Homo sapiens: one gene and its partners. The protein of the gene in region 1 purifies or fractionates together with the protein of each later gene. This does not show direct contact. Each region holds a gene or a part of one and is shown in the gene's direction. Other genes may lie near its edges. The genes, in order: SLC35A1, ACBD3, GOSR1, STX2, CILK1, SCFD1 and TMEM106B.

Region 1 (3,500 bases):
GCCATCCTGTAAAGGGGTCATTTACCCCTGAGCTGCTGGCTAACTCATTGGACAGAGCAGTCAGACCTTGCAATGCCTTTGTTATACTTCCATTAGGGGCAGTGTTGTTTGGGATGAAGGCACAACATTCAGTTTTAATCATGATGCAAACTCCTCCTCTTTCTGCTAATATCATGTCTAAGGCTATCCTATTTTCCCAAGCCATCTGGCAGTTAGTCCCTAATTGCTCAGCTATTCCTTTAACAGCATCTCTAGTGTAGTTCATAAATTGCTGTTGGTTATAATAGATGTAGTTTATCCAATCTATGTTTTTATTAATTGTGACCCACCAAAATATTGACTCAAATCCTGCAGCTATTTGATTTCGGGCTTTAAATTGATCTGGTATTCCCCGTGGGACTCCAATTGCATCTAAATAGACATGAGAGTTGAATGACCTATAAGGAGCTTCTCTCACTTTATGATGTCTTATTTTTCCTTCCTCTGGTTGATGAAATGCCAGAGTAAAAGGGATAGCCAATTGAACTAGAGCATAACTACTGCTCTAATTATTTGGCAGAGTGTCCAGTAAAGGTCCTCCATAATACCACCATACATCCGCTCAGGGATGAATAAGGGCAGATTGACGGGTCACCTCTTGGAAGTGCCTAACTTCACTGCATCCTGTTAAGTCTCCAAGAAATGCCAAATTTTTCCCCGTGTCGTTAGAGACACGAGGTAAAATTGGTTTTGGAAGATGGAGGCTGGATGGCCCTTGGGGGCTGACCTGCAGGGTGTTGGACTTCAGGAAATAGCAGAGAAAGAGCTTAGCACAATTTGTTATTCCAGGCAGTAGAATCTTGAAAAAGCTACCATGCACTCCATGTCCACTTGATTTGAGGACCATCCCAGTGGAAAGGTAACAACCTGGGCCTCTAGCCTACCGTGCACACAAGTGTAACAGTTACTTTTGTTTAAAGTGTGAATGGAATATTTAATACATTTTAACCAGGCATTTACATCTTTATACCCTGTCAATAGCTATGGTTTGCCTTAGGTCTCCTATTTCTACTACTGAGACCTTGCTTTTGTCATTTGGCATGAGGCGAGGCATAGTTTTATTTCGTAGGTTTGTGAAAGGGGCAGTTGTAGGAGGTAGAGCAGGGAGAACAAAGCGCATCTTAAAGAAGCCTATAGGGTCCTTTCCAGTGACTTCTGCTCCTAAACCATAGAAACGCTCTAAAGTGGGGTTAGAGTTGCTAGTGGTAGGAACAGTAATGGATATAGGCACTGTGTTAGGAAAGGAAGGAAAAGATAGATAGACTAAGCTTTTCTTAGCTTTAATTTGGTAAGGCTTGATCCAGGAACAATGGTCCATGATTCTGATGGTAATGGTGCTTGCTTGACTCGGGTGTGATGTGTCCATCCCCCTTCTGTGGTACAAACCATAGTCTTGGTGGTTAGCAGCACAAGGTAGGGTCCTTCTCAGGCTGGCTTGAGTTTTCCTTCTTTCTACCCTTTGATGAGGGTGTGATCCCCAGGCTAGTGCCCGTTTACCAGAAATTCTAGGGGTGGTACCTGTGCTAAAAGACTTGTAGTTTTGAGGGAAAGGAAAGTGGAAGATAAACCAAGTATATAATTTATGAGAAACTGATCTTTTGTTTTAAATTTGGGGACACCAGGCTGGGCGCGGTGGCTCATGCCTGTAATCCCAGCACTTTGGGAGGCCGAGGCGGGTGGATCACCTGAGGTCAGGAGTTTCAAGACCAGCCTGGCCAACATGGAGAAACCTTGTCTCTACTAAAAAATACAAAATTAGCCAGGCTTGGTGGCACATGCCTGTAATCCCAGCTACTTGGGAGGCTGAGGCAGGAGAATCGCTTGAACCTGGGAGGCGGAGGTTGTGGTGAGCCGAGATCGCGCCATTGCACTCTAGCCTGGGCAACAAGAGCGAAACTCTGACTCAAAAAAAAAAAAAAAAATTGGGGGACACCAGCAGTGGACTTTATAGTCCTTAGTGCCTTCTTCCTGAGAAACTTCCTTTAGAAACTTCCTGAGAAACCTATTTTTATTAGTTTTTAGACCAAAGAAAGCCAAACACCATTTTATATTTGACAGTGCTTCCTGTATGATTATACCAGATAAGCTAAATTTCACCTTTATATTAGTGTATTATTAATATTAAACTCAATTTTAATAAAACCCTGTAGACATATTTATCCGATTTTAATGTCTGACCATAAGGTAAGATTTCCATAGACTCTTTTTAACCTTTTATAAAATTTGTTAAAGAGCAGTTTAGTGTTTTTTAGTGTTTTAAGAAAAACCCATTGTGCTTTTATTTTAATGTCCAGTTCACAGAAAAACTGGATGATACCCCTTTAACTTTAGCCAATATGGTTACACACAGAATTTCCTTTACAATTAACATTTTAAAACTTGCTTAAACGCTCAAAACAAAATTTTTTTTAACCTTTTAATGTAGGTAAAAATCCACATTCTATGCCTCCTTATTATCCTTTTACCAAAAGTATATTTTACTTTCATTATACACCTTGCACATAAACTGTTTCTTCAATAGTTTTACATTCAGGAGGCCTAATTACTTTTAAATTATACAACATTTCTTGCATAAGTTCCCTTTTATAGCATTTTTCATGACTTTCGCAATCTTCGACAGGCCTCAATTTTCTGACTTCCTGTAAACATCGCTTTCTTTAAATAACCAGTTAATTTATTTTAGGATAATAATTTACCATATAACATTCTTTTTATATAAATTCTCCCCCCCCTCCTTTTTTTTCCCCCAAGATGATAACCATTCTTTTCCAAAGCAAACTTCCTTCAGGTCTGTGGACTAGACTGCCTAAGGCCACAAGATTAGAAGTTAGGATAATACATATTACACTGCTAACTTTTGGCAAACTTTACCTTTGTGGAAAACCTTGTAAGTTTGGTATTTCAATTATCCTTTGCTATTAATAAGACTTTCTTTAGTTTAAATTAACTTAGAATTGGTATAGACCACTCCTTCCTGATTCTGTAAGTACTTTAAGGCTTAGCTGAGTGCAAACAGCTTACCAACTATTAGGCAATTTTCCTAACTCTACTTCTATAAGAGTTTCCCTATCACTTACTGAATACCCGTTGTGGCTTTTTCCCTCAGTCACACGGGAGGAACCATCTATCGTCCTGTCCTGAAGGGAGTTCCTTCTAGGTCTGGTCGGACCTTTATATGGTAATTAATTAAGATTTAGATCCCCTGTGAGGAAACCTGCTGGGTTAAGGGAATTATCAGTGGTTAATGTTAAATCATCTTTTTCTAACAGAATAGCCCCATACTTTAAGATTTTTGAGTTAGTAAGTTACCTTTTTGTCTTAGGATACTTCTGAACTGGGTGAGGTGTGCTCACAATGAGGTTTCCTCTAAAAGTTATTTTTCTACTTTCTTCTGTTAGCAAAGCAGTTGCCGGTACAGATTGAATGCATTTGGGTCATCTGCGGGTTACTGGGTTAAGGAT
Region 2 (2,281 bases), on another chromosome or scaffold:
TTTTCTTCCTTAGGTCTTGAAAGGTAGACAGAGGAGTTTGCTTTCTCTGAAGAAGCATGGATGGTAACACATCCTCCTGTTTTAATTCTCCATTTTCTTCATTGTTTACAGGTCCTAAACCTTGGCTTAAATTCATAAAAGATGCCTTTTCATCTATCCCAGTAATCTTTAGTTTTATAGATTTAAAACAAAATTTGAGTCTTGAATCAATGGACCAGTCTATTTCTTGGATGTCAACAATAGTGTACATTTTGGATGGTTCTGTATTTCTCATTTGCATGTGAAACATGCTTAATTATAGGTATTTCTGTGGTTAAGTAAATCTGGTTTTGACCTACCTTTATAAGAGTGCCATCTGCTTTTTTAAAATAAACTTTTAATTTTAGAATAGTTTTAGATTTACAGAAAAGTTACAAAGATAGCACAAAGAGTACCCATATACCCTGCACCAAGTTCCCTCTGTTGTTAGCATCTTACATTGTACTGTGGTGCACTCATCACAGCTAATGAAACAATATTGATACATTGATTCATTAATTAACTAAAGTCCATATTTATTCAGATGTTTTTAGTTTTTACCTAATGTTCCAAGATCCTTTCCAGGATGCCACATTATAGTCAGTCATCATATCTCCTTAATCTGCTATAGACGGTGAGAATTTCTCAAACTTACCTTGTTTTAAATTCCTGATAGTGGCCATTGACAAGCATCACTCAGTGTGTTGCCAGAATTCACTCTGCCATGTTATAAACCTGAAAATCCATGCCTGTAGTCCCAGTCTCTTAAACAAACAAACAAACAAAAACAACAACCATAAACCCGAAAGTCTTGTCTTCTGTGCTGAATACTCCCTTGACCTCTTTGAGCTGGTTTGTATTAAATATGTTAAACTGTGACTTCGAAGCTGGTTCATAATTTTCTCATTCCTGTAGGTTTCTAGAGGCATTTTTTTTCCTAACCTCATAGCATTACAGTTCAAAAAACTCTTAACCGGGGCAAACCTTTCAGAGCCCATTTTTTGCCACTTAGATCATCTCTGGGTTAAATTGGCCTAGTGAAAATAATTGAATTTTCAGAGTATCTCTGAATGCCTATCTCTCTACTATGATTTTTTCATTTTACTGCTTATATTTAAGATATACAGAAAGCAATAGTCCTCACAAATCATCTTCCATCTTTCTAAAATGGGGAGGACTCATATTGGTCAGAAGGAGGATGATGAGAGCAACATTTTCATGTTACTCAGATGAGTGAAATTCCTGAGGATGAATTAGGAATTGAATGGCTATGGAAAGGGGAAAATGGGACCTTGAAATAGGAATGGTAGTAAGCACAGAAAGAGATAGGATGCTGACCACTGCTACCACTAGATGTTCATCACTGGGCTCCCAGGGCTCAGAACAGGGTTTGGTGTATAGCACATACTTAGGTATTTGAATGAATGAGTGAATGAATGAATGAATGAACGAACTAATAAATGCTCACATGCACATAACTTGTTAAATGGTTCAACAGAATTCCCAACAAGAGCAGTTTCTCAAAGAAAGGATAGGCTGGGCACGGTGGCTCACGCCTGTAATCCCAGCACTTTGGGAGGCCGAGGCAGGTGGGTCACAAGGTCAGGAGATTGAGACAATCCTGGCCAACATGGTGAAAGTCCATGTCTACTAAAAATACAAAAATTACCTGGATGTAGTGGTGCACGCCTGTAATCCCAGCTACTTGGGAAGCTGAGGCAGGAGAATCGCTTGCACCCAGGAGGTGGAGGTTGCAATGAGCTGAGATCACGCCGCTGCACTCCATCCTGGGTGACAGAGCAAGACTCTGTCTCCAGAAAAAAAAGAAAGGATAGATTTTAATTGCCTGATGCAAGTGTGGTTTTCCTGAATCTGTTCATTGACTTGTCTCTGTTCTTACAGAAAACATCGGTTGTGAAGAGAAAGCCAAAAAGAATGCCAACAAGCCTTTGCTGGATGAGATTGTGCCTGTGTACCGACGGGACTGTCATGAGGAGGTGTATGCTGGCAGCCATCAATATCCAGGGAGAGGAGTCTATCTCCTCAAGTTTGACAACTCCTACTCTTTGTGGCGGTCAAAATCAGTCTACTACAGAGTCTATTATACTAGATAAAAATGTTGTTACAAAGTCTGGAGTCTAGGGTTGGGCAGAAGATGACATTTAATTTGGAAATTTCTTTTTACTTTTGTGGAGCATTAGAGTCACAGTTTACCTTATTGATATTGGTCTGATGGTTTGTGAACTCTTGCTGGGAATCAAAA
Region 3 (3,500 bases), on another chromosome or scaffold:
CTGTATATATTGGATTTAAAGCCAGTTCCTGAGTATTCGTTAGCTAGTTATCCAATCTGTGGATCATTTAAACCTCAATCTTATTTCCTCTTGGTAAGAGTCAAGGAAAGAAGAGAGAATGTAATGTTGAGGTTGAAGGAACCATAATTCCTTTGGGGTAAAAATGTAAAAGATCGTTTCTCACAGACCCTATATAACATAATCCATAATTCATTTTATGGCTCCTATTAATCACCTTATTATTTTAAGTATGTTTTAAAGGACTGATTTGAGTAATGGATCCTCTTTAACTGAACTTCTTTTTAGTTCTGATACAACACCCCTTTTAAATGGATCAAGCCAAGACAGAATGTTTGAGACAATGGCGATTGAGATTGAACAACTTTTGGCAAGGGTAAGTGCTTTCTGTTAAATGGCTATTTTGCAAATAACTGTATACTTGTTACGTAGGATCCTGGATTATATTGAGACAGACATGTTTATTGAAATTATCCATTCCATTCAATATGTGTACCTCCCCACACCACTTGAATTTTGATGACAGCCATTCTCAGGTGATATGATGTTATTTTGGTCTTTATGGATTATGTGGGGGAATGCTGAATTCTTACTTGCTCTCTTGTTTGTTTTTTGTTTTGTTTTGTTTTGTTTTGTTTTGCTGTCAACCAAAAGGGCATATAGGCAAATAATTTGCTTTTAGCTGTTTATAGTGCTTAGTAAAATATTTTGATTGTTTTTTTTTTCTTTATTTCTAGCTTACAGGGGTAAATGATAAAATGGCAGAATATACCAACAGTGCAGGTGTCCCCTCCTTGAATGCAGCCCTGATGCATACATTACAGCGGCATAGAGACATATTGCAGGTAATATATTGGGCTCGAGATGTTTTCATTATCACAGGAGTTTGGGTTTTTTTTTTTTTAATCCCTGCATTGGATATGTGCACATATATTTAAAAGGACAAAGAGAAAAATCTGAGAAAATAAATGCCATGCTAAAGGGACTTGTTTTACTTTTTTTTGGGGTCACCATTATAAAATTCTGAAAATATCTAATAGCTCTTGCTATTTCTTGGCGAAGTTGAGTAATATTCATCACTGGGTACATATACTTCCACTATGGGAGACCTAGCTAGCTAGCTGTAACAGTGAAATAGCCAATGGTCATGTATAGACAATAACGTGGTGGGTAAGCGTGTACTTTCAGCTAGCTTTGAAGATAATATGGAGGGGGAATTATTTACTATACTTAGTATATTGTTTAAGAAAACAGTAAATGTGTATGCACCAATAAAACTAAATAAACTTTTAAAGATTTAAATGGAGGATATGTTAAAAATATGGTAGTACAAATAGGAAGGCAATTTTTTTTTTTTTTTTGAGATAGGGTTTCTCTGTCACTCAGGCTGGAGTGCAGTAGTACAGTCACAGCTCACTGCAGCCTCAACCTCCCAAGCTCAAACAAGCCTCCTACCTCAGCGTCCTGAGCATCTGGGACCACAAGCACATGCCACCACGCCTGGCTAATTTTTTAAAAGCTTTTGCAGAGACAGGTCCTTGCCATGTTTCCCAGGCTGGTCTCTAACTCCTGTGTTCACGAGGTTTTGCTATATTGCCCAGGCTGGTCTCTTAACTCCTGTGTTCACAGGTTTTTGCTATGTTGCCCAGGCTGTTCTCTTAACTCCTGTGTATGGGCAATCCACCCCCTCAGCCTTCCAAAGTGCTAGAATTATAGGCATGAGCCGCTGTACCCAGCCACAAATATTTTTAATATTGAGAAAAGTCAGCAACTATTTCTAATTTTAAAAACTGTTTTTAAAAGTAGGAATAGATGGCCGGGCGCAGTGGCTCGTGCCTGTAATCCCAGCACTTTGGGAGGCCAAGGCAGGTGGATCACCTGAGGTCAGGAGTTGGAGACCAGCCTGGCCAACATGGCGAAACCCTGTCTCTACTAAAAGTATAAAAATAAGCTGGGCATAGTGGTGGGCGCCTGTAATCCCAGCTACTTGTGAGGCTGAGGCAGGAGAAGCTTGAACCCAGGAGGCGGAGGTTGCAGTGAGCTGAGATTGCACCACTGCACTCCAGCCTAGGCTACAAGACTGAGACTCCATCTAAAAAAAAAAAAAAAAAAAAAGTAGGAATAGAAAGATACTTTAATACAAAAATGTATTATCGGGTTAAAAGCTAGCATTGTGTTTAAAGAGAAAGCAATAAAAACATTCCCATTGTATGAAACAAGACAAGGATACCCATGATCGCTACAAATGTATAACGTTGTTTTTTAAGTTCTTGATGGTGCAATTAGACAGTAAAAAGAAATGAAATGTATGCTGGGCATGGTGGCTCACACCTCTTATCCAAGCACTTTGGAGGTCTGAGGTGGGCGGATCATTTGAGGTCAGGAGTTGGAGACCAGCCTGGCCAGCAGGGTGAAACCCCTTCTCTACTAAAAATACAAAAATTAGCGGGGCGTGGTGGTGGGTGCCTGTTATCCCAGCTACTTGGGAGGCTGAGGCAGGAGAATAGCTTGAACATTGAACCTGGGAGGTGGAGGTTGCAGTGAGCCGAGATTGCACCACTGCACTCCAGCCTGGGCAACAGAGTGACTGTTTCAAAAAAAAAAAAAAAGATGTAAATATTGGAAAGGAAGAGGCAAAATTTCTGTGAGGTAGCAGGATAAAATTATATGTCTAGTACACGCAAGAAAATTACCTGATAAAAAGTTAGAAACAATTAAATTCAGTAAGATGGTAGATCACAAAATGAATACATAAAAGCAAATAGTTTTCCTATTATGATAGGAAATAAATGATAACCTGTTAGAAAATACAATGGAAGAAACTATAAAGCATTTATATATGAATTAAATAAGAAATGTGTAGGACTTGTATGTGCAGAATTCTACTGAGGGACATAGAACAAGATTTAAGTAAAGGAAAGAATCATTCTGTTTTTGGATAGGAAGACTTTCGTCTAAATTGCATGACATCCCAGTGGAAACAGCAGGGTTGTATCGTTGTTTGTTTAATTAAAAACAAATGACATAATGACACCAAAGTTCATTTGGAATCATAGACATACAAGAACAACCAAGAAAAACAACCTGAAAATGAAGATAAGTGGTAGAGGGTTCCTAGTTCTACCAGATCTTAAAACCTGTTAAAAAGCTGGAATAGTTAAGACAGTTTGATACTAGAGAAAAAAAATAAATAAATAAAAACAATTAAACAGAGTTTATATGTAGACCCAATTATGTTTGGAAATTTTTAGTTTCTGATAAAGATGTTGTTTAAAATCAGTGGGGCAAAGAGAAATTATAAAATAAATGGAACTATAACCATTGCTTAATTATTCAGAGATTTTAAAAAAACAATTCTATCTCAATCCTCACATCCAGAACAAATTCCAAATGGATCCAAGAAGGATAGAAAAAGAAACCATAAAGCAGAGGTGAAATTTGTAAACTTTGGAGCAGAAAGGACTTTCTAAATAAGACTTGAT
Region 4 (3,500 bases), on another chromosome or scaffold:
ATTTTTTTGTTACGGGGCAAAAATTTAAAACTTACTCTCCTAACTTAGGCATTTTATGATAGTGCCCCTGACACTGGAGAGATTATGGGTTTTTCACATTGTCACCTCCTTGTGCTAATACACAGAGATGCTGATTTTCACCGTGTTAGGAAAAAATGGAGTGAGACGGTGTGTGTGGATGCACCTCCAGGCGATGGCCCTGAGACGCACCCCCGGGCTGCAGGCTCAGCCGCCAGGGCACACCCTCACTCACACCCCCGGGCTGCAGGCTCAGCCGCCAGGGCACACCCTCCGCTTTTCCTGGGTATGTCTAAGTATGCTCGTCATCTCTGAAATGCCAGACATGGTTTCTCATGTTATTTCATTTATTGCTTTGAAAAAATTGGCCCCTAATGTAAACTGAGGTGAAGAGATACCTGTATAAAGTGCTTAACTTAGTTCCAGGCCTAAGTCAGCTTTCATTAAAAACAGGCAGTCCTGTTCCTTTTCTCCATGACCTGAACACGTCAGTCTGGTGAAAACGATAGTGAAAGTTCGTTGGTTTTACAAAGGGGGAAGGTGGTGGGTGTGATACGTTTTCATTCTCCTCTGTGGATGAGCAAGCCTGGCTCTGTGAGGTGCTTGGGGTCTGTGCGGTAGCTGGCGTATAAACTCGTCAGAGACGTGATGCCTGTTTCAGAAATGACACTGTCTTTTTGATGAGATGCCTGCTAATGGAACCCTCCTGGCTTGTCTCCCTGTCCCCTTGCCGCTCAAATGCTTTGCTGCTGCCCCTGGCTCAGGTGTGGGTCGTCCCCACTCCTAGTGTCCTGCATTTATTCCCGCGGAGCCATGTGGCCCTCAGAGGGAGGCCAGGCAACGTTTGTAGAAGGGTTTTTTTTTTCTGTGTGCTATGTCAGGAGCAGTGAAGAAGTAACTGCCAAGAACATAAAAGAAGGAGCGAAAGGCCAAGTACTGAGTGTGTCGGGGCTTCATGACGAGGCAGTGGGGCTCTCCGTCACTGAGCTAGCAGGCCCGCACCTCTGTACATGCGGAAAACTAACTGCATGTCTCAGTCATCAGAAATGTGGCAAAATGACTTGGTCGTGCTGTCCCCATGGATGAAACCTGAAATAACAGTTACATAGCAGCTTATCGCCAAGTAGTCTGACCTTATTAAGTCACTCTCTCAAGAAGTCGCCCAACAGTATTAAGCAGTGTCCTGTAACTTAGCTTCTAAAGTGAGTTCTGATGGGTTGTTTTGCTTTATTTTATTTTATTTTTTTGAGATGGAGTCTTGCTCTGTTGCCCAGGCTGGAGTGCAGTGACACGATCCTGGCTCTCTGCAACCTCTGCCTCCTGGGTTCAAGTGATTCTCCTGCCACAGCCTCCTGAGTAGCTGGGATTGCAGACCCACGCCCGGCTGGTTTTTGTATTTTTAGTAGAGACAGGGTTTCGCCATGTTGGCCAGGCTGGTCTCAAACTCCTGACCTCAGGTGATCCATCCGCCTCGGACTCCCAAAGTGCTGAGATTACAGGCGTGAGCCACCACACCTGGCCAGGTCGTTTTATTTTAAATGAAGGATGTCTTTTAATGTGGCAATATGAAATTAACCATGCATGATATAATCAGCTTGCTTTTCTTTGACAGAAAAAGTGGATAATTATTGCTGTGTCAGTGGTTCTGGTTGCCATAATCGCTCTAATTATTGGCTTGTCAGTTGGCAAATGATGGTGTGGATAACGTCAGTGTGCATGCCTCTCTGCCAGGGTGGGAGTAAGTAACTCATCAACTAATTTACTTATTAACTTTTGCAATTAACCAATAATAGTATTTGCTTAATTGTAATAGACATAAAACTAATAAAAGCTTGCCAGCCACGCAGTACAGATAATGCCATCTAGTGATACATCTGCCTGTGTGCTGATTCGAGTGCCCAGCCACTGTGTTTACTGAGAACAAGCACAGGCTGGGCGGTAACTCATTTTTAAACCAAGGTCACCTTCTTATCCCGTTTTTAAAAGTGTTTTTGAGACAGGGTCTAGCTGTGTCACCCAGGCTGGAATGCAGTGGCGTGATCATGGCTCACTGCAGCCTCGACCTCCTGGGCTAAAACTGTCCTCCTACCTCAGCCTCCCGAGTAGCTGGGACTACAGACGTGCACCAGCACACTCGGCTAATTTTTAAAAAAATTATTTTTAGTAGAGACGAGAACTCTCTGTATTGCCCAGGCTGGTCTCGAATTCCTGGCCCTCAGCCTCCCAAAGTGCTGGGATTATACATAGACATGAGCCACTGTACTCAGCCTGAATCTTTTGTTTTTGATCTAAGACCATTAGCTCTTTACATGTAGTGGATCCTTCATTAAATGTCATAGAAATTCAGTGAAGATTAATTCTCAGTTGTAATGTTTTGTCTCCTGAGTTTTAGCTTTTAGAGTAATTGCAACACTGAAAGGTACTTTATAAAATACACTAACGCATCATTTTACTATGGAATCGAGGGCATGGATGAACGCTGAGAAAAACATTGACTGAAAGGAACATCCTTCGACCTTTCTATAGGCAGCATCTATTTTATTTAAAAATATTTCCTTTAATATTAAAAGGAAAATTACGTATTATATTTAGTTAGCATGCCTGTTAATTCTTAAAGAATTCTGAATATAAAAGGTATCAGTTTATTTAAAGAATCAAGGTGTGAGTGTCACCTTTCCTAAACTTCAGCAGGCTTTGTGGTTTCCCCCTGGTTTTCTTCTGCATTGGGAGCCATCCTTGCACTGGCCCTGAAGTGGCAATGCTGTCGGTGTGTTACAGGTGGACACAGCAGTGATTTCTCTGTAAATGTTTGGCACAATTCTTGTATTAGACAGTTGTGAACTGTTCCCAGGTGTCTAGAGTGTGGCAAGTCATCCCCAATGAATTTATTCTTGGGTTATGGAAGTGACTGCAGACTTGATAGTCACCCAAGGCTTTTTAAAAAGTTAACATACAGCAGAAAGGAATCACGAGCATGGTTAAGTCTCACTATTGCTTTGTAATCTTTAAGATTTATTCCTTCAACATGGCAACACCCTGTCTCTACAGAAAAAAAAAAATCCAAAAACTAATTGGGCATGGTGGCACACGTGCCTATAGTCCCAGCTACGCCAGAGGCCGAGGCAGGAGGATCACCTGAGCCTGGGGAGGTCGAGGCTAGAGTGAGTCTAGATCGCACCACGGCACTCCAGCCTGGGTGACAGAGCGAGACCATCTCAAAACAAGAGATTGATATCTTAATGTGAGCATCTGTTACGCTCACCATGCAGTTACCAGATGAGAAGTTTTCCAGTTAGTCTTCTGACATTTATGCAAAAGCCACAAAATTACACCTGAAATTACTCTGTAAGGAGCTCTGGGATGCTGCGTGTGTTAACATTCCATTATTTGGCAGTCAGAACTCTCTTACCGTCTATTTTTATTAGGCAGGATGTTTGTGTAGGATGTTTATTAGGCAAGATGTTCTATTTTTTTCTTCTTAG
Region 5 (3,500 bases), about 34 Mb from region 1:
TAATACTATCCATTTGGAACTTGACCCAGTATTAAGTACTGTTGTCTTTAGAATGATGAACAGAGAGGATTGTCCTATTACTAAAATATTGTTCCTTTCCATGATAATGGCAATTAGTGTATTTTCACATATAACCACATCACAATCACCCTCCCTTTGCTCTAGGGCAGTGACAGTCTTTGGAAAACAACCTTGACTAATAGATTTAGTCCTACTAGAGTTCCTGCCTTCATTCATTCATTCAACTAATACAACTCCCTCTGTCACAAGGACAACCAGCTCTGAGCCCTCATTGTCCCCTGCACTACTGGGTCATTGTTCTCTCTCAGTTCTCAGTGCTGTCTCATGGGTTTCCTCCCTCCCATCCTCCTCACAGCTCTGGTTTGCTCTCTAGTTGACCCTGGTGCTTGGCTCAGGTAGATGTGTTAACATTAAGCTGTTTAATGTTCCCTACAGACGAAAGTCCTTTGTTCAATCAGCAAGAGTATATTATGAGACCACAGTGCTCCTGCCACTGTGCCAGGCATTCATAAGAAATATAAATGTGGCCTCTGCCCTTAAAGTGCTTCTGTCTAATTCATAAAAAATGGTTAGCCAGGTGCGGTGGCTTACACCTGTAATCCCAGCACTTTGGGAGGCTGAGGTGGGTGGATCATGAGGTCAGGGGATCGAGACCACCCTGGCTAATATGGTGAAACCCCGCCTCTACTAAAAATACAAAAAATTAGCAGGGTGTGGTGGCAGGCGCCTGTAGTCCTAGCTACTCAGGAGGCTGAGGCAGGAGAATGGCGTGAACCCAGGAGGCAGAGCTGGCAGTGAGCTGAGATTGTGCCACTGCACTCTAGCCTGGGCAACAGAGCAAGACTCCGTCTCAAAAAAAAAAAAAATGGTTAACATACCTGAAGTTGATAGAGCTCAACTGGAGTTAGAGGGGAGGGCCTATTATGTCCATGAGGGCAAGAGTCATGTCCATTGCATTGTTTCTGAATCCTTAGAACCTAATCTGTTGCCTGGCATGGAGCAGATGCTCAGTGAAAATGTGTTGGTAGAATGAATGAATGAATGAATGAAGGCTACCATGTTAGAATGGCATAATGGAAGAAGCGAAACTCAAAACAGGTGTTGGAGGATGGCAAAAGTTGGGATTGATGTAGACAAAAAGGAGTAAAGGGCACATTATTAATGGAAATAAGTACAGTTACATATCACTTGATGACTGGATATGTTCTGAGAAATGTGTTGTTAGACAATTTTGTTGTTGTGCAAACATCATAGAGTACACTTACTTAGACACACCTAGATGGTATAGCCTATTACATAGCTGGACTATATGGTATAGCCTGTTGTTCCTAGACTGTAAGCCTCTACAGCATGTTACTGTACTGAATACTATAGGCAATTGTAACACAATGGTAAGTATTTGTGTATCTAAACATAGAAAAGGTACAGTAAAAATATAGTATAAAAAATTTTTTTAAAAATGGTACACCTGTATAGGGCACTTACTGTGAATGGAGCTTGCAGGAAATGGCTCTGGGTGAATCAGTGAGTGAGTATGAAGGTCTAGGACACTTTATAAACACTGTACACCAAGGATACACTAAATTTTTAAAATTTCTTTCTTCAATAATTAATCTTAGCTTGCTGAAACTTTTTATTTCATAAACTTATACTTTTTTTAACTTTTTGACTCTTTTATAATAACATTTGGCTTAACACATATGGCTATACAAAAATATTTTCTTTATATCCCTATTCTATAAGCTTTTACTGTTCTTAAATTATTATTATTACTTTTTTAACTTTTTTGCTAAAAACTAAGACACAAATACACACATTAGCCTAGGCCTACACAGGGTTAGGATCATGAGTATCATTGCCTTCCACCTCCACATCTTGTCCCACTGGAAGGTTTTGAGGTGCAATAATACGCAGGGAGCTGTCATCTCCCATGATAACAAAGCCTTCTAGGTACCTCCTGAAGGACCTGCCTCAGGCTGTTTTACAGTTAACTTTTTTTTTTTTTTTAGTAAGTAGAAGGAGTACAATTCTAAAATAATGATTAAAAGTATAGTATAGTGAATACTAGATAAGGATTTTTCAGCTTCATTATAATAAGACCACCATCATATATGCAGTCCATCATTAATTGAAACTTCGTTATGCAGTGCATGACTGTACAGTGAACTTACAAAGAATGAGGAGTTGCACCTGATTGGAGCACACTTTACATGTATTGATAAGTGTTGGAAAATAAGTTTCTCTCTTTAGGTAGAGTGAAAGGAGTTCAGCCCTGTTTAATATAAAAAGGAGTCATGGATGGTTTTTGTGGGTGAATGAGAGAGTGACAAGGGAAAGATAGTGTTTAAGTGGTCAGGATTATAGGAGAGAAGCTGGAGCAAGGAAGGTCTGCAAGAAAGTGGCAATGCAGGCATAGGCAGTGAGAAAGTAGAAAGAGACAGATATGAGATTTACCCCCCCAACCCCCCCGCGCCGCTCCAAAACGAAGTCTTGCTTTGTTGCCTGGGCTGGAGTGCAGTGGTGTGATCTCAGCTCACTGCAACCTCCACCTCGCAGGTTCAAGCAATTCTCCCACCTCAGCCTCCCGAGTAGCTGGAATTACAGGCATGTGCCACCACGCCCGGCTAATTTTTAAAATATTTTTAGTAGAGATGGTGTTTCACCATATTGGCCAGGCTGGTCTCGAACTCCTGACCTTCAAGTGATCCGCCCGCCTCGGCCTCCCAAAGTGTTGGGATTACAGGCGTGAGCCACCGCGCCTAGCTGATATGAGATGTTTTGATAGAAAATACGACACAATCTCATAACTGGGTAAGGATGGATCCAACATAACTGCAAGGTACCTAGAAATCTTATCCAAAGGTTAGGAAGGGGAGATGATTTGGGAGAGGACAAAAGTGGTTTTGGATAAGTTAACATAGGGATGATAGTGACATCCAGTTGCTGTCCAAATAGAGATTTATGTCTTCAGAAGGGTAGAGAAGGCACATTAGAAATGTAGACTTGAGCGTTGTCAACATACAGGTTGTCAAGGAATCGTGTAGATCTTCAGTGATGGCTATTAATTTCTCCCATAATGTGCTAGTTAGAATCCAGCTTTCACAACATTGATACAGATTGAGTATCTCTTACTTGAAATGCTTGGGTCCAGCAGTGTTTCTGAATTTGGATTTTTTCAGATTTTGGAATATTTACATTATATTTTACCAGTTGAACATCCCTAACCCAAAAATCCGAAATCCAAAATGCTGCAGTAAGCAATTTCTTTATGTGTCAGGTTGGTGCTCAAAAAGTTTCAGGTTTTGGAGCATCTCAGATTTTGAATTTTCAGAGTAGGGAATACTCAGCCTGTAATGATAGCAATGATAATGTGTAACAAATAATAGCATCAGCAGCAGCTGAGTTGTATTTCCAGTATTGGTGTCCCATTGAGATTTGGAGCCACATTAAATGATGTCTAGGTTGGTGATACTCTCAGG
Region 6 (3,500 bases), on another chromosome or scaffold:
TGTTAATAGACTGTTATAGTTTGTCAATTCCAAATGTCCTTTTTTACATTTCTGAAATTAGGATCTATCTTATCACTGATGATATGTCATAACTGGCAGCATTTTTATTTCTCAGTAGTATATAAAATATATTTTAAAAATTATGTTTTAAAATTGTTACCACCTTGGGTTTCATGAAATACGGTATTTGATGAGTTTTCCTTTCATTTTTATGTCAGACTGAAATAAGCAGGTTTGCTTTGATAATGTGTTAATTTTTATGGACTGAAGTAAAGTTTAACTTCATGCTATCCTTGGAAATTGTGGTTTATTAATAAACATTGAGTGCCATTGTCTCTGTACTAAGTGTTTAACTCCTTTATTTACTAATGGAAGGACTGAAGTTTAGAAGGCTTAAGTGATTGTCTCACATTTGTACAACCAGTTAATAACAGAGCCATGGCCACATTGCTTGACCACTAATTCTGTGCTGTTTATCTACTGAACTGTAATGGCTCAGTAACAGTAACTAACAGAAGTGAGGCCTTACTCAGTACTTCATTCAGGGGTAATAGGATAGTCTACCAGTTTGAGAGTCTCGTAATCTCTGCCTAACTTGCTACTTGCCACCAGAGCATGGAAATATTACACAGCTACCATGGTGAACTCTTGTGTACTTTGCCTCCAACCATTCTCCTCTATTTGCTGGAGAATACTGTATCAGTTACTTTATACCCTGCAAGCTGGTTTAGGCTAATTTGTAGGAAACAGTAATTACAAGTTTCCACAGTATGAAATGGTGGTTGTAGCCCATTAGACAGTTGGACAAGCAGTGTGAAAAAGACCACAACCTATGGCAGCCATCACATTATCATTCTTGATATCAGTGGCAACAGTTATTAAACACAGACTCACTGGCAGCATGTGCCTCTTTCCTCTCTCTCCTTGATTATAGAAGGATGACTAGAGAGAGGTGAATATTCCTCATATAAGCATGGTTTGATGTTGGGATATTTGTATGGAAATTGTTCCTAAATTGTAAAAGGAGAAAACTGTAAAATGACTTAATCTATAAGATGCTTACATTCTCTTATGAAACAATAAATAGACAAAAATAGATTGTCTTTAATTTTTAAGGAAACATTTATATACCTTTCATTTAAAAAATATATTTGATTTCATGTTTGGTTAAATTTTTTTATAGCTTCTAAAGAATTGCTTCTAAAATTTTTTTCATTGCGTCCCCTAGCTTTCTGATTTTCCCCTCAGAGAGCCACACTTTCCTCACATTCACCCTTCCCCTCTGACCACCACATTTCTATGAAAAGTGGGAATAAGATTGATTCTGAATATGTTTTAGTTCTCATTCAAGGAGAGTGTTGGTAGAAAAGAATGTCTGACCATAAGCAGTGCTAAAAGTGTGAGCAGAATAGAACAAATGAAGACTAACAAGAAATTAGGGTCTTACTAATGCTAATAAATAATAACAACACTGACATGGGAGAAAGATAGGTTAACTCACTGATTAATTGCAACAAGAGCTTTTAGAGCACTGGTTACTGTCCTTGAGCTAGTGAACTCCCATTTTGAGGAATATTGTTTTAAATAAGTGAATAAAAAAATAAGTTTTAGTTCCTTATGTCTTCTAGGCTTTTACACTCTGATCGAGATCCTATTCCAGATGTTCCTGCAGTATACTTTGTAATGCCAACTGAAGAAAATATTGACAGAATGTGCCAGGTAATATGGGTTCTTATTTTCTGGACTCCTGAATTTGGAAATGGATTTTTTTTTCAAGAAAAATTCCTAGATGTCCAGGGTGAAAAATCAGAAATTCCTATGCCTACTTTCTCACTCTGATTTTTGAGACTATCTTTGAATTCCAAATAGCCTGAAAGACTTAAAACTTTTGGCTGAAGAAGTATTATACAGTAGTCCTCTCATGTCCACAGTTTCACTTTCCACAGTTTCAGTTATCCACAGTTAACCAGGTACTGAATATATTACAGTATTTTGAGAGACCACATTCATATAACTTTCATTACAGAATATATTTTCTGTAATATATTTCATTACAGAATATATTTTATAATTGCTCTATTTTATTTCTAGCTATTGTTGCTAATCATTTACCGTGCCCAATTTATAAATTATAAATTAAGTTTTATCATAAATATGTATGTATAGGAAAAAACATATACGGTTCAGTACTACCTGGTTTCAGGCATCCACTGGAGTCTTGGAAAATAACCCCTGCAAATAAGGGCAACCACTGTACTGGTAAAGTCTGAGTCTGGCTTTAACAAACAGAAAGCCTAGGTATATTGCCTTTCTAACTTATATAGGGTTTTCCTTTTCTAAAATAAGGGTGAGATTAGGAAGTCCACACTGGTGCAGAAGTACTATAAGGTAATCAAAGACCCAGGCTCCTTCTGTCGCTGATCATTCGTCTTTAGTTTGTTGGTTTTCCTTGTCTTGCTTGTCGCTGCGCCTGTAGGCATCAAATCTATGTTCACATCAACAAGAAGAGGGACATGGACTGTGCCAGCCCTGACTGTTGATTTTGATCAGGAATTTAAGCCTTTCCAGAAACTCCCAGAAGACCTTTATTTATTTCTCACTAGGTAGAATCAGTTACAAGGGTGGCTGCAAAAGTCAATATTTAGATGAGTCACCCCAAAGAAAATCTAGCAAGATTCTTTTAGCAAGGAAAAGGAGAAAAGTAGATATTGGATAGGTAAGTAACAGTGTCTTCCACAAGTCACAACATCTTTGTTATTGACTGTTGAATCAAATTGCTATTTAAATTGTTAGTGACGTTTGCAAATTTTGTGTCCTGTGTAGCTTTATGATGCCCAGCTTTCTCTTTTACCCTGCGTAAACTCAAGTATGCTATTCATGAAAGAGGTACCACTTGCAATCTCTTCTTCTTTCATTATTTAAATAACACCTTTATTGAAATTATAATTTACATACCATACAATTCACACATTTAAGGAGCACAAGTGTATGGTTCATTGGTTTTTAATATAGTCACAGAGTTTTGCAACCATCACCACAGTCAATTTTAGAACATTGTCATTACCTCAAAAAGAAACCTGGTACCATTTATCACATCCTCAACCCTCCCCCATCCTCTTCCATCCCTAAGCTACCTTCTGTTTCTGTATATTTGCCTACTCTGACCATTACATATGAATGAAATCCTATAATATGTGGTCTTTTGTATATGGCTGATTTCTCTTAGCATAATGTTTCCAAGGTTCATCCATATTGTAGCATGAATTGGTACCTTATTCCTTTTCGTGGCTGAATATATTCCATTGTATGGATGTACGAAATTTTATTCATCCTTTTACCACTTGATGGACATTTGGATTGTTTCTACCTTTTGGCTATTAATAATGTTGCCATAAATATTCATGTGCAGGTTTCTCTGTGGACATGTTTTCAATTCTCTTGTGGCCGTAAACACATAGGAATAAAATTGCATGGTCAAATGATAACTCTATGTTTACCTT
Region 7 (3,500 bases), on another chromosome or scaffold:
AAAATATTCAGTGAACCGTGTTGTAAACAGATGTCATATTATCCAGACTGTTCCATTTATTGAACACAGGCAGAGTAGGTAAAAGTTTTAAGGGTCCTAGGATTTTCAGGATGGCAAATGAGCATTGGCTTCAACTTAAAGTCACCAGCTACATTCACCACTAAAGAGAGTCAGCCTGTCCTTTAAAGCTTTAAAGGCAAGCATTGACTTCTCTTTAGCTATGAAAGTTTTAGATGGCACCTTTTTGTAAAAGAAGGTTGTTTTATCTACATTGAAAATATATTGTTCATTGTAACCACTTTCATCAATGATCTTAGCTAGATATTCTGGGTAACTTACTGCAGGTTCTCCATCAGCACTTACTGCTTCACCTTGCACTTTTATATTATGGAAACAACTTATCTCCTTAAACATCATTAACCAACCTCTTGGTAGCTTCCAACTTTTCTTCAATAGCTTCCTCATCTCTCTCAGCCTTCATAGAATTGAAGCGTGTTAGGGCTTTGTTCAGGATTAGGCTTTCACTTAAGGCAATGTTGTGGCTGGTTTGATCTATTGAAACCACTAAAACATTCCCATATCGGCAATAAGGCTGTTTGATTTTCTTATCATTCATGTTTTCTGGAACACTTTTCAATTACTTACAGTAAGGAAATAGCACTTTTAATTTCCTTCAAGAACTTTTCCTTTGCCTTCACAACTTGTGCAAGAGACCTAGCTTTCAGCCTATCTTGACTTTCCAAGATTGTCCTTGGTGAGAAATGCTTGATTACTAGGTGTAATTATTTCTAGCTTTTGATTGAAAGTGAGAGATATGTGACTCTTCCTTTTACTTGAACAGTTAGAGGCTATTGTAGGATTATTAATTGGCCTAATTTCAATGTTATTTTGTCTCAAGGAGAGAGGGATGTGGGAACAGCTGGTTAGGAGAGCAGTCCGAACACACACTTTTTTTTATTACTTTCACTGCCTTACATGGGTATGGTTCATGCTGCCTCCAAATACTTACAAAAACATCAAAGATCACTGATTACAGATCATTAAAATAGGTTTAATAATAATGGAAACATTTGAAATATTGCAAAAATTACCAAAATGCGACAGAGACATGAAATGAGAACATGCTGTTGAAAAAAATGGCACTCATAGACTTGTTGGACACAGGATTGAAAGAAACCAATTCATCAAAACCACAATATCTGCAAAACGCAATAAGGTGATGCACAATAAAAGGAAGTATATCTGCACTTCCTTCTTTTTTACTGAAAAAGCCCAAGTTCTTACTCTGGTGTTGAGAACCTTTCATTAGCTGGCTACAATCTCAGTTCACAATCATTTCTTATTGCCCTTCAACAATGTCCTGACCAAATCGAGTTCTTTCTCATTGGGAACAGTTCATTCCTTTATCCCTTCGCTCATTCTGTTCCTTTTTTCTTAGAAAAATTATTTGCCCATGTTTTTTATCCCCCAATTCTATCTTTTTCAATGCCCACTTCGTGTCCAACCCCTCTCTACTTTCCCTCTAAACTTACTCAAACACTTGGTGAACTTTTTCTGAATGTTTTTTCTGAATGTTTACTTTTAAAGGAGTTGCCCAGTCACAAAGTTTGAGCCAAGTTTTTTTGTTTTAAACTTGTTTTAAACTTTTGTTTTCATCAACTTTTTTCAAACAATTTTTGTCAGCTTAGAGGTTGTGTTTTAATTACTATTTTTAAAATCTTGTATGAGGTAGTATGATTTGAAATTAGATGGAATGTGCCCAAAATTATCTCTGTAGAATAATATGGAAAAACGAAAATGAAAAGATGTATTACCTGAATGTGCTCCTCCTAGCCAGTTTCTCAAGGGAGAAGAATCATTAATAAGTTTGTGAGGCTTTTTTTTTTTTTCTGGTAGATTTCTGTTTCCTTGATCAGTGGTTTTTCAGAATTTTTTAAAGCTTGTGAAATACTTATTTGTAAATAGCATCTTATGAGGAACCTTGATATGTGACAAAACAGATGCTTTGATTTGAGAGCAGAAGACCTGCAGCCCCTGACTGCTCACCTTTCCAGGGACCCCTGAACATTGGCCTAGAGGGTAGTGTACAGTCACTTCTTCAGTGATAACTTACTGAGTGTGATTCAACAAAACTGCTTTGGTTTATGGGTGAAACATAATTTATAACTAGGCAAATGTCAGCTTAAATTTATATTTTCTAAATAGCACTGAAAATGACAATAGACAAATGTAATTTCTGATTTTTAAGAAATGATTTTCCATTTTAACATACATTTTAAATGTTTTGTCTTCAAAGGGAATCCTTAAAAATGATATATTGGAAACCACTGATTTCTTATTTTCATTTCATGAATTTCAGATTCATGAATGGAATATATTGATAATAGCATTTTTTAAGTTGCCCCAAAAAGATGAAATACAAATAATTTTAATCCCAAATCTATTTCAGACACCTAACTTTTTTTTTATTTTTTATACTTTAAGTTCTAGGATACATGTGCAGAACGTGCAGGTTTGTTACATAGGTATACACGTGCCATGTTGGTTTGCTGCACCCATCAACCCGTCATCTACATTAGATATTTCTACTAATGCTATCCCTCCCCTAGCCCCCTACCCCACAAAAGGCCCCAGTGTGTGATGTTCCCCTCCCTGTGTCCATCTGTTCTCATTGTTCAACTCCCACTTATGAGTGGCAACATGTGCTGTTTGGTTTTCTGTTCCTGTGTGTGTTTGCTGAGAATGATGGTTTCCAGCTTCATCCATATCCCTGAAAAGGACATGAACTCATCCTTTTTTATGGCTGCATAGTATTCCATGGTGTATATATGCCACATTTTCTTTATCCAGTCTATCATTGATGGACATTTGGGTTGGTTCCAAGTCTTTACTATTGTGAACAGTGCTGCAATAAACATATGTGTGTATGTGTCTTTACAGTAAAATGATTTATAATCTTTTGGGTATACACCCAGTAATGGGATTGCTGGGTCAAATGGTATTTCTGGTTCTAGATCCTTGAGGAATCACCACACTGTCTTCCACAATGGTTGCAATTTACACTCCCACCAACAGTGTGTAAAAGCTTCCTATTTCTCTACATTCTCTCCAGCATCTGTTGTTTCCTGACTTAATGATTGCCATTCTAACTGGCGTGAGATGGTTTCTCACTGTGGTTTTGATTTGCATTTCTGTAATGACCCGTGATGATGAGCTTTTTTTCATGTTTGTTGGCTGCATAAATGTCTTCTTTTGAGAAGTGTAAGGTACTTAATTCTTAAATTAAAAAAAAATACCCGGCCGGGCACGGTGGCTCACGCCTGTAATCCCAGCACTTTGGGAGGCCGAGGCGGGTGGATCATGAGGTCAAGAGATCGAGACCATCCTGGCTAACAAGGTGAAACCCCGTCTCTACTAAAAATACAAAAAATTAGCCGGGCGCGGTGGCGGGCGCCTGTAGTCCCAGCTACTCGGGAGGCTGAGGCAGGAGAATGGCGTGA

Evidence for each region.
Region 2: the proteins of SLC35A1 (region 1) and ACBD3 purify together in Homo sapiens (affinity purification with mass spectrometry; 2 studies listed by BioGRID and IntAct, with this or other methods). This does not show direct contact.
Region 3: the proteins of SLC35A1 (region 1) and GOSR1 purify together in Homo sapiens (affinity purification with mass spectrometry; one large-scale study listed by BioGRID and IntAct). This does not show direct contact.
Region 4: the proteins of SLC35A1 (region 1) and STX2 purify together in Homo sapiens (affinity purification with mass spectrometry; one large-scale study listed by BioGRID and IntAct). This does not show direct contact.
Region 5: the proteins of SLC35A1 (region 1) and CILK1 purify together in Homo sapiens (affinity purification with mass spectrometry; 2 studies listed by BioGRID and IntAct, with this or other methods). This does not show direct contact.
Region 6: the proteins of SLC35A1 (region 1) and SCFD1 purify together in Homo sapiens (affinity purification with mass spectrometry; one large-scale study listed by BioGRID and IntAct). This does not show direct contact.
Region 7: the proteins of SLC35A1 (region 1) and TMEM106B purify together in Homo sapiens (affinity purification with mass spectrometry; one large-scale study listed by BioGRID and IntAct). This does not show direct contact.

What each region holds. Positions count from the first base shown.
Region 1 is NC_000006.12:87,479,474-87,482,973, forward strand, and holds part of SLC35A1 (CMP-sialic acid transporter), read left to right. Parts: intron 1-3,500. UniProt on the Homo sapiens protein: Transports CMP-sialic acid from the cytosol into the Golgi apparatus, functioning as an antiporter that exchanges CMP-sialic acid for CMP. Binds both CMP-sialic acid and free CMP, but has higher affinity for free CMP.
Region 2 is NC_000001.11:226,146,461-226,148,741, reverse strand, and holds part of ACBD3 (Golgi resident protein GCP60), read left to right. Parts: intron 1-673; exon of another isoform or gene 674-739; intron 740-1,920; coding exon 1,921-2,132; 3' UTR 2,133-2,281. UniProt on the Homo sapiens protein: Involved in the maintenance of Golgi structure by interacting with giantin, affecting protein transport between the endoplasmic reticulum and Golgi. Involved in hormone-induced steroid biosynthesis in testicular Leydig cells.
Region 3 is NC_000017.11:30,483,908-30,487,407, forward strand, and holds part of GOSR1 (Golgi SNAP receptor complex member 1), read left to right. Parts: intron 1-306; coding exon 307-394; intron 395-755; coding exon 756-863; intron 864-3,500. UniProt on the Homo sapiens protein: Involved in transport from the ER to the Golgi apparatus as well as in intra-Golgi transport. It belongs to a super-family of proteins called t-SNAREs or soluble NSF (N-ethylmaleimide-sensitive factor) attachment protein receptor.
Region 4 is NC_000012.12:130,794,251-130,797,750, reverse strand, and holds part of STX2 (syntaxin-2), read left to right. Parts: intron 1-1,630; coding exon 1,631-1,711; 3' UTR 1,712-1,756; intron 1,757-3,500.
Region 5 is NC_000006.12:53,020,325-53,023,824, reverse strand, and holds part of CILK1 (serine/threonine-protein kinase ICK), read left to right. Parts: intron 1-3,500.
Region 6 is NC_000014.9:30,632,319-30,635,818, forward strand, and holds part of SCFD1 (sec1 family domain-containing protein 1), read left to right. Parts: intron 1-1,628; coding exon 1,629-1,719; intron 1,720-3,500. UniProt on the Homo sapiens protein: Plays a role in SNARE-pin assembly and Golgi-to-ER retrograde transport via its interaction with COG4. Involved in vesicular transport between the endoplasmic reticulum and the Golgi.
Region 7 is NC_000007.14:12,238,794-12,242,293, forward strand, and holds part of TMEM106B (transmembrane protein 106B), read left to right. Parts: 3' UTR 1-3,500. UniProt on the Homo sapiens protein: In neurons, involved in the transport of late endosomes/lysosomes. May be involved in dendrite morphogenesis and maintenance by regulating lysosomal trafficking.